Linked DNA regions of Homo sapiens. The protein of the gene in region 2 purifies or fractionates together with the protein of the main gene of each other region. This does not show direct contact. Each region holds a gene or a part of one and is shown on either strand. Other genes may lie near its edges.

The links.
Region 1: the proteins of ZNF777 (region 2) and RBM19 purify together in Homo sapiens (affinity purification with mass spectrometry; one large-scale study listed by BioGRID and IntAct). This does not show direct contact.
Region 3: the proteins of ZNF777 (region 2) and PRKD1 purify together in Homo sapiens (affinity purification with mass spectrometry; one large-scale study listed by BioGRID and IntAct). This does not show direct contact.
Region 4: the proteins of ZNF777 (region 2) and NKTR purify together in Homo sapiens (affinity purification with mass spectrometry; one large-scale study listed by BioGRID and IntAct). This does not show direct contact.

What each region holds. Positions count from the first base shown.
Region 1 is NC_000012.12:113,935,326-113,939,225, forward strand, and holds part of RBM19 (probable RNA-binding protein 19), read right to left. Parts: intron 1,812-3,900; coding exon 1,682-1,811; intron 1-1,681. UniProt on the Homo sapiens protein: Plays a role in embryo pre-implantation development.
Region 2 is NC_000007.14:149,433,588-149,437,489, reverse strand, and holds part of ZNF777 (zinc finger protein 777), read left to right. Parts: intron 1-663; coding exon 664-915; intron 916-3,902. UniProt on the Homo sapiens protein: May be involved in transcriptional repression. Inhibits cell proliferation through CDKN1A/p21 induction by down-regulation of NIBAN1/FAM129A at low cell density.
Region 3 is NC_000014.9:29,921,348-29,925,247, forward strand, and holds part of PRKD1 (serine/threonine-protein kinase D1), read right to left. Parts: intron 1-3,900.
Region 4 is NC_000003.12:42,634,786-42,638,685, forward strand, and holds part of NKTR (NK-tumor recognition protein), read left to right. Parts: intron 1-435; coding exon 436-581; intron 582-2,082; coding exon 2,083-3,900. UniProt on the Homo sapiens protein: PPIase that catalyzes the cis-trans isomerization of proline imidic peptide bonds in oligopeptides and may therefore assist protein folding. Component of a putative tumor-recognition complex involved in the function of NK cells.

The sequences.
Region 1 (3,900 bases), on a different chromosome or scaffold from region 2:
TAGGTTCAAGGGTGGTAACTGAAGTAAAAATCAAGGCAGCTGTGATTTGGGGGAGACAGTTAAGAACAAGCCAGGATGACATGAAGAGAATTTTGTTTTGATGGGAACAGGCACAGGTTTTGAAGGAGACCCTGATCCAAACTGAGTGGAGAGAGCTTAACTCATAAACGAGCAGGAGTCGGGCTTTCACAAGGTTTACACCAATCATCATTAACCCCAACGATGTGGGATGCTTCTGGGTCCTCAGATCGCAAAGGGACTGAAGGATTTTGTTTCCTGATTGAAACAGGCCTCCAGACAGGCACTTCCTGAATGCCTTGCGCTGGCTGAGCCAGTCCTGAAGATACACAGTGAAACAAGGAAATGAGAAATGTGGACAAGGCAGGGGAGGTTAGGTACAGCAAAGTCTATTCCACTAAAATCTTAGACTGGGCGTGGTGGCTTATGCCTGTAATCCCAGCACTTTGGGAGGCTGAGGCAGGCAGATCACTTGAGGCCAGGAATTCCAGACCAGCCTGGCCAATATGGTGAAACCCCGTCTCTACCAAAAATACAAAAAAATTAGCCAGGCGTGGTGGTGGGCGCCTGTAGTCCCAGCTACTCGGGAGGCTGAGGCAGGAGAATTGCTTCAACCCAGGAGGCAGAGGTTGCAGTGAGCCAAGATCGCGCACTCCAGCCTGGGCAACAGAGCAAGGCTCTGTCTCAAAAAAACAAAACAAAACAAAACAAAAAAAACAACTCTTAAATCTGACAGTGTTCCTCCCCATTTTTTTTTAACTATGAAATGTCCTTTAAAAAAAAATGAGAACAAAGGAGAGAGTAGCTGAGGACTTATTATTATTTTTTTTAACATCCTTATTTTAATAAGTTAAACAACTGGTTGCTGTATTGTGGGTGTGTATAGGTGAGTGGTTATTACTGACAAGGAAAATCGTAACATCTGGATAGAATGACCATGGTCCTGTTGGTCTTGGCTTCTAAGATGTGGTCATGGTCCTTAGACTATGAGGTCCTCGATGCGGGGGATACACTGCCCGCTGTGGGCATCTAGGAATGCGTGGGGGTGTTCCAGGTTGTCACAAGGACTGGGGGCACTCGTGACACTCAGAGGCACAGGCCAGGGATGTGAAATGTCTTGTGATTTGCAAAGCAGTCCTGACAAGAAAGTACTGTCCAGTCCCAAAGCCCAATGATACCCCTTTTCCCAGCTAGGAAGCATTAGCCAGGGGGTGGGGGTTGCCCTATCTGGCCCCCAGGGGCCACGGCTTCCCCTTCCTTTCCTGTCTTTGCAGTCACTGGACATCAGAGGGCACTGCCACTCCAAGGACATGAGAATAAGTATCTCCCATACCAGCCACCCTCCTCCATGAGCCATTCTGGTCCATCTCTGAAACAGGAAGGTTGTTTATACTTGCTCTGCTTTGAATCCTTGTTAATAGATAGTAATTTTTTTCCCCTAAAAGCTTTAATTGACAAACTAAAAGCATATTGCATCCATAATTTTGACACTGTTTTTTACAGGACATGCCCATAAAATCTGAGAGTCTGAGCCCTGCTGGTCTCTAGCATGAACAAAGAGCTTTAAACCAGAGGCTTGATAAGAAACTTCACGCTGCCCCCAACCCTCCTCCTTTCCCTCACCAGGATCCCAAGCCATCCTGGTCTCAGACTCAGCTCTTACCTGTTTCTGGCTCTGCTGGGTCCTTTTCCATGGGTTCTGAAGGTGTGTCTTGGAGCTTTTTCTTCTGTGGGGCTGTGCTGGAGAAGACGCCAACTGGAGCCCACTCCAGATAGAGGGGGACATGATGGAACTGCAGAGACAAGAGTGATGGCCCTGTGGGTCTTCATTACAACACACTGCTGGGGAGGGACTCAGTCCCATGCAGATCACAGCCCAAGGGTCACAGAGGATGGGCAACTCACCCAAGAATGGAGCCGGAAGGAGCCCAGCCCAGAGCCCTGACTGCTGTCTACTCCCTGAGGACAACATTCGGCCCCCATGCTGCATCTCAGGGTGCAGGAGAGAGGCTTTAGTCTCTGTTGCCACCAGACATATGGCAGCTCCCAGGCCCCCTTTGTGTTTTTTCCAATCAGAGTATGAAACTCTAAAGTTTCATACTTTAGATGGGAGTGGGACGAGGAGCGACCACATCACTGGTAAAGTGCAGCTCTCCAGGAGGAAGTGTAAAATACCCGTTAAGAGAACACACTTTCTCTCTATGTGCATATATCCACGGGCAACACCTGTATACGTGTGCATATGTGTGCATGCAGATGTTATTTTTTTAAAAGGATAGCTGGGCATGGTGGCACACACCTGTAGTCCTAGCTACTCAGGAAGCTGAGGTGGGAGGATCCCTTGAGCTCAGGAGTTTGAGGCTGCAGTGAGCTAGGATTCTGCCACTGCACTCCAGGGAAATCCTGCCTCTTAAAAAAAAAAAAAAAAAAAAAAAGAGGGGCCCTGGGCAGGCGGGTGATAAACAAGACACTGATGACACCTGCCTCATTAGGCGGTTACTGGGGAGCTGCAGGACAGGGGTGGGAGTGAGACTTGTCAACAAATGCCCTTTTTGAATCTTTTCAAATTTCCTACTCCATGAAAGCCTTGCAAATCAGTTATTTTCAGAGAAATACACATGCTTCAGAGTGAAACAGATTGGTGTGCAGACAGCAGGCTGCATCACTACTTAGCTGTGTGATCGTGGGTCAGGGCACCTCTCTGGGCATCAGTTTCCATATGTGCAAAATGAAGACAGCAGTCTTCTTGTCGGTGAAACAGACACTGCCCAAAACAGGAGGCCTCACCTAGTCAGTGTTCTCCAACTGTGGCTCACACAGAGAGAGCTTTTGGTGACTGGCATGTCCTCCCAAAGCAGAAGGAAGAAAGGATGGTGTCACATTCCAAAGGATGCTCACATCTCAGTCATGGGGCCCCACCTAGATAATTTTTCTTATGGGTCAGGCGCAGACTGACTTCCTGAGAGCTTAGTGGCCACAGAGTCCCAAGCTAAAGACTATTACGGGGTTAAAGTGGCAGAGAATGAGAAATCATTTCCTCACCAGCAAAATGGGGACATGAATATCTATCTCTAAGAATTGCTGGGGGGCATATGAATACCTATCTCTAAGAATTGCTGGGGGGGACATGAATATCTATCTCTAAGAATTGCTGAGGGAGACCAAGGTCTGCGAAGTGCTAAAGTGTCTTATAAACAGAAAATACTTGTAGTGGCACCGCAAGGGTATGTCTATATCTTGAACCCCTAGAAACCTGTGAACGCGCCCTTATTTGGAAAAAGGATCTTTGCAAATTTCATTAAGTGAAAGATTTTGAGATGAGATCATCTTGCATTATCCCGGCAGAGCCTAAATCCAATGACAAGTGTCCTTATAAGAGAAACAGGGAGGAAGACTGAGAGAAGAGGAAAAGCCAAGTGAGGATGAAGGGAGAAACTGGAGTGATGCAGCCATGGGCCAGGGATGCCTGGAGCCACCAGAAGCTGGAAGAGACACAGATCAGACTCCCTAGAGCCTTCAGAGGAAGCACAACCCTGCTGACACCTTGATTTCAGACTGTGGCCTTCGGAACCGTGGGATGATCTATTTCTGTTGTTTCAAGCCAACTAGCTTGTAATAATTTGTTATGACAGCCACAGCCAGCAAACTAATACACAACTGTTGGCTTTTTTCTAAACCAAGAACCAGGAGACAGCCCCACCTACAGAACTGACTTTCATTCATCTCATTGTAGCTACAGGATTACAAAAGCATCAAGAATGCTCATTCTTGGGCAAAATAGGGAGACCTTTGTCTCTACAAAAAATCAAAAAATTAGCCAGGCGTGGTGGTGCATGCCTGTAGTCTCAGCTACATGGGAGGCTGAGGTGGGAGGATTGCTTG
Region 2 (3,902 bases):
TGCCCATGGTGTACATGCATACGTGCTTGGGAATGTGAGTGTTTTTTGGACACCTCAGGGTATGGGGCCGAAGGGTGGGAGTGGTCAGGAGGTAGCCTTTTCTTCATCGACCTGATTGTGAGTGAGCAGATGAGAGAGAAACTGTGTTAACTGTACCGGTTGGCTGGTCTGACTGAGAAAGGGAATGAGCATCTCTTTAAAATAAACCCTGGCTGGGCGCAGTGACTCATTCATGCCTGTCATCCCAGCACTTTGGGAGGCTGAGATGGGAGGATCATGTAAGCCCAGGAGTTCAAGGCTGCAGTGAGCTATGATCACACCACAGCACTCGAGCCTGGGTGACAGAGTGAGACCTTTCTCTATTGAAAAAATAAGAGTAAAAATAAACCCTGACAATGCTGAATATTTTTTTTTAATTATGGAGCTCATGGAAAACAAACTTTGCATCTATTTTAACTTGACTACAGTTTGTATTGGTATTCAAAGCTACAAGGTGTCCAGAAAATTCTGTGTCTACTCATTTCCAACTCAATATTACATTTCTTCAGGGTCTCTAAGATAAGACTTATTGAGATGTAAATTGTAGGGCTGCAGAAACCTGGGCAGTTGGCATGAACATTCTGGGTTCTTTTCTCCTCCTCACCCCTGCCCACCCTCTCTCAGCGCACGATGGGATCGTGATTAAGATCGAGGTACAGACCAACGACGAGGGCTCAGAAAGTTTGGAGACACCTGAGCCCCTGATGGGACAGGTGGAAGAGCACGGCTTCCAGGACTCAGAGCTGGGTGACCCCTGTGGGGAACAGCCAGACCTGGACATGCAGGAGCCAGAGAACACGCTGGAGGAGTCCACGGAAGGCTCCAGCGAGTTCAGCGAACTGAAGCAGATGCTGGTGCAGCAGAGGAACTGCACGGGTGAGTGCTGGGCGGGGACGGCCGGGGAAGGGTTGCCATGAGGCCTCCCAGAGGGCCCCTGCCCCCTGGGAAAGCTGTGGTTCCTTCAGAGAGGTAGCTGGACACTGATGGGGCAACAGGTGGGAAAGAATTACCAAGCACGGCCTCGAGTATAGGCTCCGTGACGCGGGACTTGTAAGAATCCGTCTCCAACCTAGGAAAGAAGTGGTTACATCTAAAGACTGGTTCAGGCAAAGGGATCTCAGAGCTCACCTATCCCACCCCTCATTTTACAGACAGAGGTTAAATAGATGGGGCAAGGCCACACAGAGAGTGGCAAAGCTAGAACTCTCCCAACGTGTCCTTGATCATCTCATATCACCCTAGAAGCCTCAACTACCTTGAAGATTTCAGCCCTGGAGAGCATGGTTTTCAAATAACAATAGCACCGGCATTCTGTGGTCGAACCTAGTCTTCATTTTTGTTTAATTATAAAACTTTATCACCATGCTGCTCACTCTTGCTCCTTCTGAGTTCAAGAACAGTAAGGCACTGGGGCTCACGGTGGCCTGATCCCAGGACATCTTTCGTGATGGATTTTCTGATGCTGAGCCATCCTGGCAGGCCCGGGAAAAGCCCTACTTGATCATCATGATGTATTTTTTGAATTCACTATTGGACTTAGGTAATAAATATTTTACTCAAGTTAGACAACTGTATTCATAAATGAAATGAACCTTTTCTTGAATTATTCTCATCTAATTTTGGAAACAGTATTATACTGGACATATCAGATGAACTGGGCAGCTTTTGCTGTTGTTCTGTATTCTGAAAAAAAAATAGGAATTGAGTGTGTTCCTTGAAAAATTGGTAGAACCCACATGGACTTTTGTTTTTGTCTGGATGTTTCGTTTATGTGTGAGTCATTCACCATTACGTTTGTATTGTATTTTCATATTTAGAAATAGATCCACATCCATTTCTGTTTTTAAAAGTATTATATTGATGTAAAGTGTTTAAAAATTATCTGTAGATAATTCCTCTATAATTTGCCTTTTTGCACTTAATAAAATACCCATGGTATTTTATTAATGACCATCTCGTTGGTCAAAAGATATGGATCTAGGCCCAGGGCAGTGACTCACACCTGTAATCCCAGCACTTTGGGAAGCAAAAGCAGGAGGATTGCTTGAGCCCAGGAGTTCATGGCCAGCCCAGGCAACATAGGAAGACCCCATCTCTACAAAAAAATTAAAAATTAGCCGGGAATGGTGGCGCATGCCTGTAGTCTCAGCTCCTTGGGAGGCTGAGGTGGGAGGATTGGTTGAAGCTGAGAGGCTGAGGCTGCAGTGAGCCATGATTGTATCACTGCACTCCAGCCTGGGTGACAGAGCAAGACACTGTCTCAAAAATATGTACATATATGGATCTACCACCTTATTTTTAAGTAACTCCATGGTATTTCAGAAGTGTTTTTGACATACCATGCTGTCTTTCATAACAGAATAGTGAAAAGACATAAGGTAAATTCTGAGTATATGCTAAATTGGGACCATCATCGTATAAACTCTATTGCCTTTTGAGCAGTCCCCATTAATTGTAGTAGAACTTTAGAAAACTACTAAACAGTAGTTTGTGGAGTTTTGAGTCTTGAGTTTTAGGGCCAAATGTTTGGCGTTTACCATTCCATGAAGAAAAAAGCACCTTCGGCCAGGAGCGGTGGCTCATGCCTATAATCCCAGCAGTTTGGGAAGCTGGGGCAGGCGGATCGGATCACTTGAGGTTAGGAGTTCGAGAGCAGCCTGTCCAATGTGGTGAAACCCCATCTCTACTAAAAGTATAAAAATTAGCTGGGCATGGTAGCAGGCACCTGTAATCCCAGCTACTCGGGAGGCTGAGGCACGAGAATCGCTTGAACCCAGGAGGCAGAGGTTGCAGTCAACCGAGATCGTGCCACTGCACTCCAGCCTGAGCGATAGAGCCAGACTCAGTCTCAAAAAATAAATTAAAAGAAAAAAAGAAATAAGCACCTTTGATGCTCAAGGAGAGTTTAGTGCTTCTCAGGATCTATTTTCCCCTTTGCCTTTCAGACATACTCAGTATTTTCAGGATAAACACCAGGGCAACTAGTTACCACACTCTGCAGCTGCCTGCTCCTTGATCTTTTAGGCATCACGCTCCAAGGATGTTCTGGGTCGCTTCTTGCTGAGAATCCTAACACTACTGAGGCAGCCTTGACTCAGCACACCTGTGTCCTAATTTTACCACTGTAGTTCACTGGCTGTAGAGGAGGCCAAGGAAGTGCTAAGGACAGGGAGTCACTAGCAACCTTACAAGACGTTGGCTGGGTCACAAACATTGCTAGCTTCAGTCCATGTTACTTGAGGAGGTAGACCAGGTGGGTCCCAACCTGCAAACTCTAGAAAGGCCTAGGACTTCATTTTCTATTTGGAAACATCACTTGATATCTCTGGGCTTGGATGACCCATCTGTAAAATGGGGAGAATTCTTGCTTGACTCGTCCTATAATAAGATACTGTGCTCATGAAAAAAAAAGGACAGGTATGAGTACTCTGAAAAGGTCTTGTTGGTTTTTAATTATTCTGCAAACACAGAATTTTTGTGTCTTCTGTCACAGATGGGTCCAGAGAAGTGACTTTCTTATGTCACACAAAGCTGGTGACTAAAAATAGAACTCACCAGTTAGTGCCAAATAAGTACAAGGCACTTGAGAAAACTCAAACAGGAGTCGGGAGCCACTTCTTTTCTCTAAAACTTACATTATCATAAAGGACCAGGCTAGAGAGTTGAGGGGGCATCCCCGGGTGGGGCATGCACTGCCTGCACCTGATCCAGATTCAAGGGTGGTCGAGTCTGACTGTGCCGGTGCATCTTCCACCCATGAGAGGCTGCAAAAGGCTGGGTTCCTGATCCCTGGGGTGGGCACCAGTGAGTACTGTGGGCTCCAAGGAGGGGTGGAGTGCTGTAGGTTTTGATCACCAAGGCAG
Region 3 (3,900 bases), on a different chromosome or scaffold from region 2:
TGCTTTTTTTAATATTATAATTTTAATTATATATTGATATAAGAATAAGATAATAAATATAAATTTCTTTTGTTAATAAGACAGTATGCTAGTCTATAGAGCTTTAAGCTTTAGTAAACAACAGCATTTATTATGCACGTATTTACAAAGCAGTATGTATGTTACATATATTGTCTTTAAATCTCAAAGTAATCTTAGATAAGTCACAAATATACATTCATTGACTTACAAATGTTCTGCATTCTCTAGTAAGGTCAGTAACAGTTATTCATGAATAAATTAGTGAAGACTTATATACAATCATCTCACAAAAAAAGGTAATAATCATTAGAAAATAAAGTTATAAATCTCCCATAAAAGCTATGATAGGAATCTGGTGAAAATAAACAGCACAGTCATGAAGTATGGTCTTCTGGGGCAAGTTTTTAAACCTTATTCCAGTAACCCCCACCACCACCACCACCATACACAGTGTACTTTTACTCTTTCAGATTGATCTCAATTCTGAATCTAAAGGCCCAAATGAATTCATGTATTTATCAAATGAGCCAATCATCCAACTCTTCCCAGCCCATGGACTACAAGGCTTAATGGTTTTAACTTCACAGTCTCACAGGATATTCTTGTGAAAACTGTCAAATAGTACATACCTGTTTTAAAAAGGTTTATAAGTCTGTGAATTGATAGAAAAATATAAAGCAGAGTTTCTCTTGGGAGGCCAAGGCGGGCGGATTACGAGGTCAGGAGATCGAGACCATCCTGGATAACACGGTGAAACCCCATCTCTACTAAAAATACAAAAAAATAGCAGTGCATGGTGGCAGGCGCCTGTAGTCCCAGCTACTTGGAAGGCTGAGGCAGGAGAATGCTGTGAACCCAGGAGGCAGAGTTTGCAGTGAGCCGAGATTGCACCACTGCACTCCAGCCTGGGCAACAGAGCGAGACTCCATCTCAAAAAAAAAAAAAAAGAAAAAGTAAAGAAAAAAAGAAAAATGTAAAGCAGAGTTTCTCTTTGGGATTGTGAGATATGTGATGAGGCCTCATTTTTTGCAGTCTATAACACAAAATATAAAACAATACTTCACATCTGGAGGCTATACAAGGATAAGGAAGCTCTTAAAAATATATTTAAAAAATAGTTAAACATAATCTACTACATATAAATTCCACATCTGTAATACATAATATACAGTTCCAAAATATAATCCTGTTACATTATTAAACTTGAAAAGAAATTTAAATTTTAAAAGTACAGGCAGGGCACAGTGGCTCATGCCTGCAATCCCAGCACTTTGGAAGGCTGAGGTGGGAGGATTGCTTGAGGCCAGGAAATCAATAACAGCCTGGGCAACACAGTGAGACATTGTCTGTATAAAAAAATTATAAAAATTAGTCAGATGTGGTGGCACACACTTGTAGTCCCAAACACTTGGGACGCTGTGGCAGGAGGATCACATTAGCCAAGACTTTGAGGCTGCAGTGAGCTATGATTATGTACTGTACTTGTAGTCTGGGCCTTATCTCAAAAAATAAAATAATAAAAATAAAATTAGAGTACTAAAATTATATTACTTAAGAATCACTTAATAGGCCAGGCCCAGTGGCTCACACCCAGTGGGATTCCTTAAATCCCAGCACTTTGGGAGGCCGAGGTAGGAGGACCTCTTGATCCCAGGAGTTCCAGACCAGCCTGGGCAATATGGCAAAATACCATCTCTACAAAAAATTTAAAAATTAGCCAGGCATGGTCACCCATACCTGTAGACCCAGCTACTCAAGGGGCTGAGGTGAGAGGATCACTTAAGCCTGGAGGCCAAGACTGCAGTGAGCTGTAATTGTGCTACTGCACTCCAGCCTGGGCAAGAGAGTGAGATTCTGTCAAAAAAAAAAAAAAAAAAACACACAGTAAAATGACAAATTCTATACTTCATCATTAAATCAGAAATCAGTAGACATATAATATAGCCAATTATAAAATTGGAATAAAAATATATACACCTAAGCCCCAAAGACCATCATTAGTTTAAAAGGAGTTTGTTGGTCCAGGTGAGTTGGATTGATCAAGCACCTAATTACTTTCGGCTTTCTCAATCTATGTGGAATGTGTGGAGTATCTAAAATTAGTAATAAAGAGAAAAATGACATCACAACTATTAAGAAAACAATGTATAATACAATTAAAGTGAAACAATTACAAGCAAAGTAATGCTACTTTCAAACCAAGGCACTAACCTTACTTCTTTAGTGAGCTATCTACTTAAAATCTCACTGTTAAATTTCTTTAGCCAAAAGATGATTCTGAAAAGTGAAACTATATGCCAGGAGTCTTATAAATGCTATTACTCCATTTAAGTACATTTAAGAGTAAAATATCAGTTGCCTTTCTAATAAGGTAATAACCAAAATGAACAATCATATTAATGGCATCAAGCATCCCTAAAGAGTAACACAGCTCATTTGAGGAAAAAAAAAAAAAAAAAAAAAGTATGTGTGTGTGTTTGTGTGTGTGGTAGATAAGTAGATGATGTACTATGAAACCAAACTAGCTCTTCCTCTGGAATTTTTTTCCTTGCTTTAAAACAATTCCTCCTCAGTCTACATATTCAAGGTTTCTTTGACAGTAGAAAGTAACAGTGTTTCAAAGTGAAGTCAATGATTGTTATTATTTTTTACCCTCCTGAAAACAATAACCATGTACACTAACAGAATACATATCTTTATATACAACCAGGCTTCAACGTCACACACTTGCAAACTAAATAAACAAACATAATGTAAATAAAACCCTGGATCAATACTTTCTAAAAAGAAAGAATAACATATTATATAGCCATACATTGTTACATACAAAAAAGCAAGACTAGATTTTTCACCTAAACTAGAAGATGAAAGAAATAATTCTTTACTTATATAAGTCAGTATATACTTAGGGTACGTTATCTTAAAATAAGTATTTTTTGTTGAATTACCATCACAATGTTTCAAGTACAATCGTGTCTGCTACATAATTAGAGAACAACTATACTCTAAATTCTAAATAATAACAATAATAATTTACAGGTGAGTTTCTCAGGGAAACTTATGCAGCCTTGTACACCTCAGTTGCTCATCCCAAAGGAAATGTCCTGTGATGTTACTGAAACTGTCAGCTAATATTTCCAATGCTCGTATGATCTATGTTAGTACTTAGGGAGCTCCTGAACAAAGTGAATGAAAAACTTCTTAACACATTTAAAACAACAGATGTGGAAGACTCAGAAAGATCAGGAGAACCTTCTGCTGTAAGTTCCACACGACTTCAGCCCACATAGTAAATTGTAAATGATTTCAAACCCTCTGCTCTCTCCTGAAACATCCAATCCCCAAACTCCTGTCATCCTTCCTCATAGCTGACGTCCTCATAAGGTACTTCCAAAAAAAAACTGAAATAAAAGACAAAAGAACTCCCTCCCACTTCCTTAACTCCACACTGACACTCTGCCATTCCTACTGTCACAACACACAGAGATCCTGTATCCTGTGATGGACCTTCAGCTCTCTTAATTTTGTTTCTGCTGGGATAATAATATATTCTGAAAGAGATGACAAATGACAGAGAAATTGAAAAAGTCCTCTGTCCAGAAACACTATCCAGTATATATTTATTTACAGTATTCTGTATATAAATAACCCTCAAGTTCACATCTATAAATCTAACCCCAACTTTTTTATAACCTAAAAAAAAAGTGAGATCTTTACCTTAACTATTCCAAACAGTCAAACTTTTCAAACTTCTTTGAGAGAGAGAAGAAACTACTAGAATAAATACAAAAGGAAAGGATTCCCCTTATAAATCAGTCACCAATCAGGGCTGATGATTTTCCCTTTCCAGTATTTCTCCCAGTCTCTCCCCCAAGTCTT
Region 4 (3,900 bases), on a different chromosome or scaffold from region 2:
ATAATACAAAATCTGTTCAAGGAACTAATTGTATTTTCCATGGTTATGGGAAGGTATTGCTGTTAGATCAAAGTATACTGCTGTGTTTGAATGGGTTTAATTGAGTATGAAAGGAGGAACATGTGAAACCATCAGTGAGTATGCTGAGAAATCATTAAGACTTTAAAAAGGAAAATTTTATGTGGATTACAGGTGAATCTCAGCCTTGCCCATCTCTTTTAATGCCTTGTTTGAAATAACTTCACCTGAACCTAAAATAAAAGTTAAAAACTAAAAAAAAAAAAAAAAAAAAAGAACTTTAGACCATCCTTTTGGTAACTTCAATCATTACCTTTGATGGGATGATCTGAGATTGGGTCTTTTACTTAACTCTGTCACATAGCAGACTGTCGTGGAGAGGCATTTTTTAAAATACTATTGTTTTTGTTTTTAAAGCGCTATCACACACCTCCAAGATCAAGATCCTGTTCTGAGTCAGATGATGATGACAGCAGTGAAACTCCTCCTCACTGGAAAGAGGAAATGCAGAGATTAAGAGCATATAGACCACCTAGTGGAGAAAAATGGAGTAAAGGAGATAAGTAAGAACTTTGAGTATAAGCACAATCCTGTGTCTGTTATATTTTAAATGTTAAAGGGATTGGATACAATTCTGGACTTTTCATTAAAGATTCAGTGAAAGATTCACAGTCAGACTGTGACCAAAGGAAATACATTTGGGACTACTTGATGAAAGTAGTACTGTTAACTAGTTGGGCTTTTAAATCAAAATCCTGTTTTCCTTAACAAAAACTATAAGCCTGTGTCTTTTAATGACCTCTTAGTCAATTTTAGAAATAATTAGGACTTAGAGGCCGGGCGTGGTGGCTCACGCTTGTCATCCCAGCACTTTGGGAGGCCGAGGCAGGCGGATCACGAGGTCAGGAGATTGGGACCACAGTGAAACCCCATCTCTACTAAAAATACAAAAAATTAGCCGGGCGTGGTGGCGGGTGCCTGTAGTCCCAGCTACTTAGAGAGGCTGAGGCAGGAGAATGGTGTGAACCCGGGAGGTGGAGCTTGCAGTGAGCTGAGATCGTGCCACTGCACTCCAGCCTGGGTGACAGAGCGAGACTCCGTCTCAAAAAAAAAAAAAAATAATTAGGACTTAGAAATTATATAGCAGATTCTTTCCTAGCCAGCCAGGTCACTGATGAGTTCATTGGTAAATAGGAAAACCTGCACTCGGTGTTCATGTTGACTGTTGATCGCAGAGACTTGCTTTTTTAGAAGTGTACACATCTCTTACCTTCAGTGATGTCCCACAGTTGAATATTTATTTTAGGAAGGGGATAGGCCCCAGAATAGCTAGTGAAAAATATACTAATGGGACCCTGTGTAATCTTCCATGGTAGTATTCTCTTTTTCTCTGGGGACATCCTGCAGAGTGGTTTGGAATTGTGAAAAGGAGGAAAAGGAATGCATCTGCTGTGTAGAAGCGGCTCAGACACAGTGGTGCTGAGGACTTTCAGTTCTGAGCCTTGACATTAACACTCAGATTGTAACCTGTATCTGTTTTTGTGTACTTTTTCCTCAATTTCTGTTTTAAGTAGTTTACAGTCTTAGGGGAAATCTGGATTACCTGTCTGAGGTGGAGAAAAAACAAGCTTCATGCTAGTTTCAAGCAGCTATCCTGCATCTTCAGAAAATCAACAAATTGTTTGAGACCTTGGTTTGACTCACCCTCAAAAACTGTCCTAGAGGCAGAGGGTTGTGAGCAGATAACAGCCAGGAACTCTTGTGATTTGAGTTCAGCAGTGTTCTTGTGATTAGTTGGTTTGCTTTTCAAAAACATTTTCCTAACAAATGTAAGGTTCTTTGCTTAGCTTAAAAAAAAAATCCTTTTGTAAGTGAATTTGTTAGTAGTTCTTAGTGTGTGTCTCTGAAAGTATAACAAGACCAGGCCTATAACTCTGATTCACGCTTCCTGCGTGTGCTTAAAGTGTTAATGGGGTCAAGAACTTTGTTGTTAACAAAGCTGTGTCTTAAGGTGTAGAAAACATGCTTATAAATCACCGCATGAATATTATGTCCTTTCTATAGGTTAAGTGACCCCTGTTCAAGCCGATGGGATGAAAGAAGCTTGTCTCAGAGATCCAGATCATGGTCCTATAATGGATATTATTCAGACCTTAGTACAGCAAGACACTCTGGCCACCATAAAAAACGCAGAAAAGAAAAAAAGGTTAAGCATAAAAAGAAAGGGAAAAAGCAGAAACACTGCAGAAGACACAAACAAACAAAGAAGAGAAGGATTCTTATACCGTCTGACATAGAATCCTCAAAATCTTCCACTCGAAGAATGAAATCCTCTTGTGATAGAGAAAGGAGTTCTCGTTCTTCCTCATTGTCATCTCATCACTCATCAAAGAGAGACTGGTCTAAATCTGATAAGGATGTCCAGAGCTCTTTAACCCATTCCAGCAGAGACTCATACAGATCAAAATCTCACTCACAGTCTTATTCTAGAGGAAGCTCAAGATCAAGGACTGCGTCAAAGTCCTCATCACATTCTCGAAGTAGATCAAAGTCCAGATCTAGTTCCAAGTCTGGGCACCGAAAGAGAGCATCAAAATCACCAAGAAAAACAGCTTCTCAGTTAAGTGAAAATAAACCAGTTAAAACAGAACCTTTAAGAGCAACCATGGCACAAAATGAAAATGTAGTAGTACAACCAGTTGTAGCAGAAAATATTCCTGTAATACCACTGAGTGACAGTCCCCCCCCTTCAAGATGGAAGCCTGGACAGAAACCTTGGAAGCCCTCTTATGAGCGAATTCAGGAAATGAAAGCTAAAACAACCCATTTGCTACCCATCCAAAGCACTTACAGTTTAGCAAATATTAAAGAGACTGGTAGCTCATCATCCTACCATAAAAGAGAAAAAAATTCGGAAAGTGATCAGAGCACTTATTCAAAATACAGTGATAGAAGTTCAGAAAGCTCACCAAGGTCAAGGAGCAGATCTTCTAGGAGTAGATCTTATTCCAGATCATATACAAGATCACGTAGTCTAGCTAGTTCACATTCAAGGTCTAGGTCTCCATCATCTAGATCTCATTCACGAAATAAATACAGTGATCATTCACAGTGTAGTAGATCATCTTCATATACTTCTATTAGCAGTGATGATGGAAGGCGAGCTAAGAGGAGACTTAGATCCAGTGGGAAAAAAAATAGCGTTTCACATAAAAAGCATAGCAGCAGCTCTGAAAAGACACTTCACAGTAAATATGTCAAAGGTAGAGACAGGTCTTCATGTGTGAGAAAGTATAGCGAGAGCAGATCATCTTTAGATTATTCTTCAGACAGTGAGCAGTCAAGTGTTCAGGCCACACAGTCAGCCCAGGAAAAAGAGAAGCAGGGCCAAATGGAAAGAACACATAATAAACAAGAAAAAAACAGAGGTGAAGAAAAATCCAAGTCTGAACGGGAATGCCCTCATTCAAAAAAAAGAACTTTGAAAGAGAATCTTTCTGATCACCTTAGAAATGGCAGTAAGCCCAAAAGGAAGAATTATGCTGGTAGTAAATGGGACTCTGAGTCAAATTCAGAACGAGATGTCACTAAAAACAGTAAAAATGACTCCCATCCATCCTCTGACAAGGAAGAAGGTGAGGCCACATCCGATTCTGAATCAGAGGTTAGTGAAATTCACATCAAAGTCAAACCCACAACCAAGTCGTCCACAAATACTTCACTGCCTGATGATAATGGTGCTTGGAAATCAAGCAAACAGCGCACATCAACTTCTGACTCTGAGGGGTCCTGTTCCAATTCGGAAAACAATAGGGGAAAGCCACAAAAGCACAAACATGGGTCAAAGGAAAATCTTAAAAGAGAACACACCAAAAAAGTGAA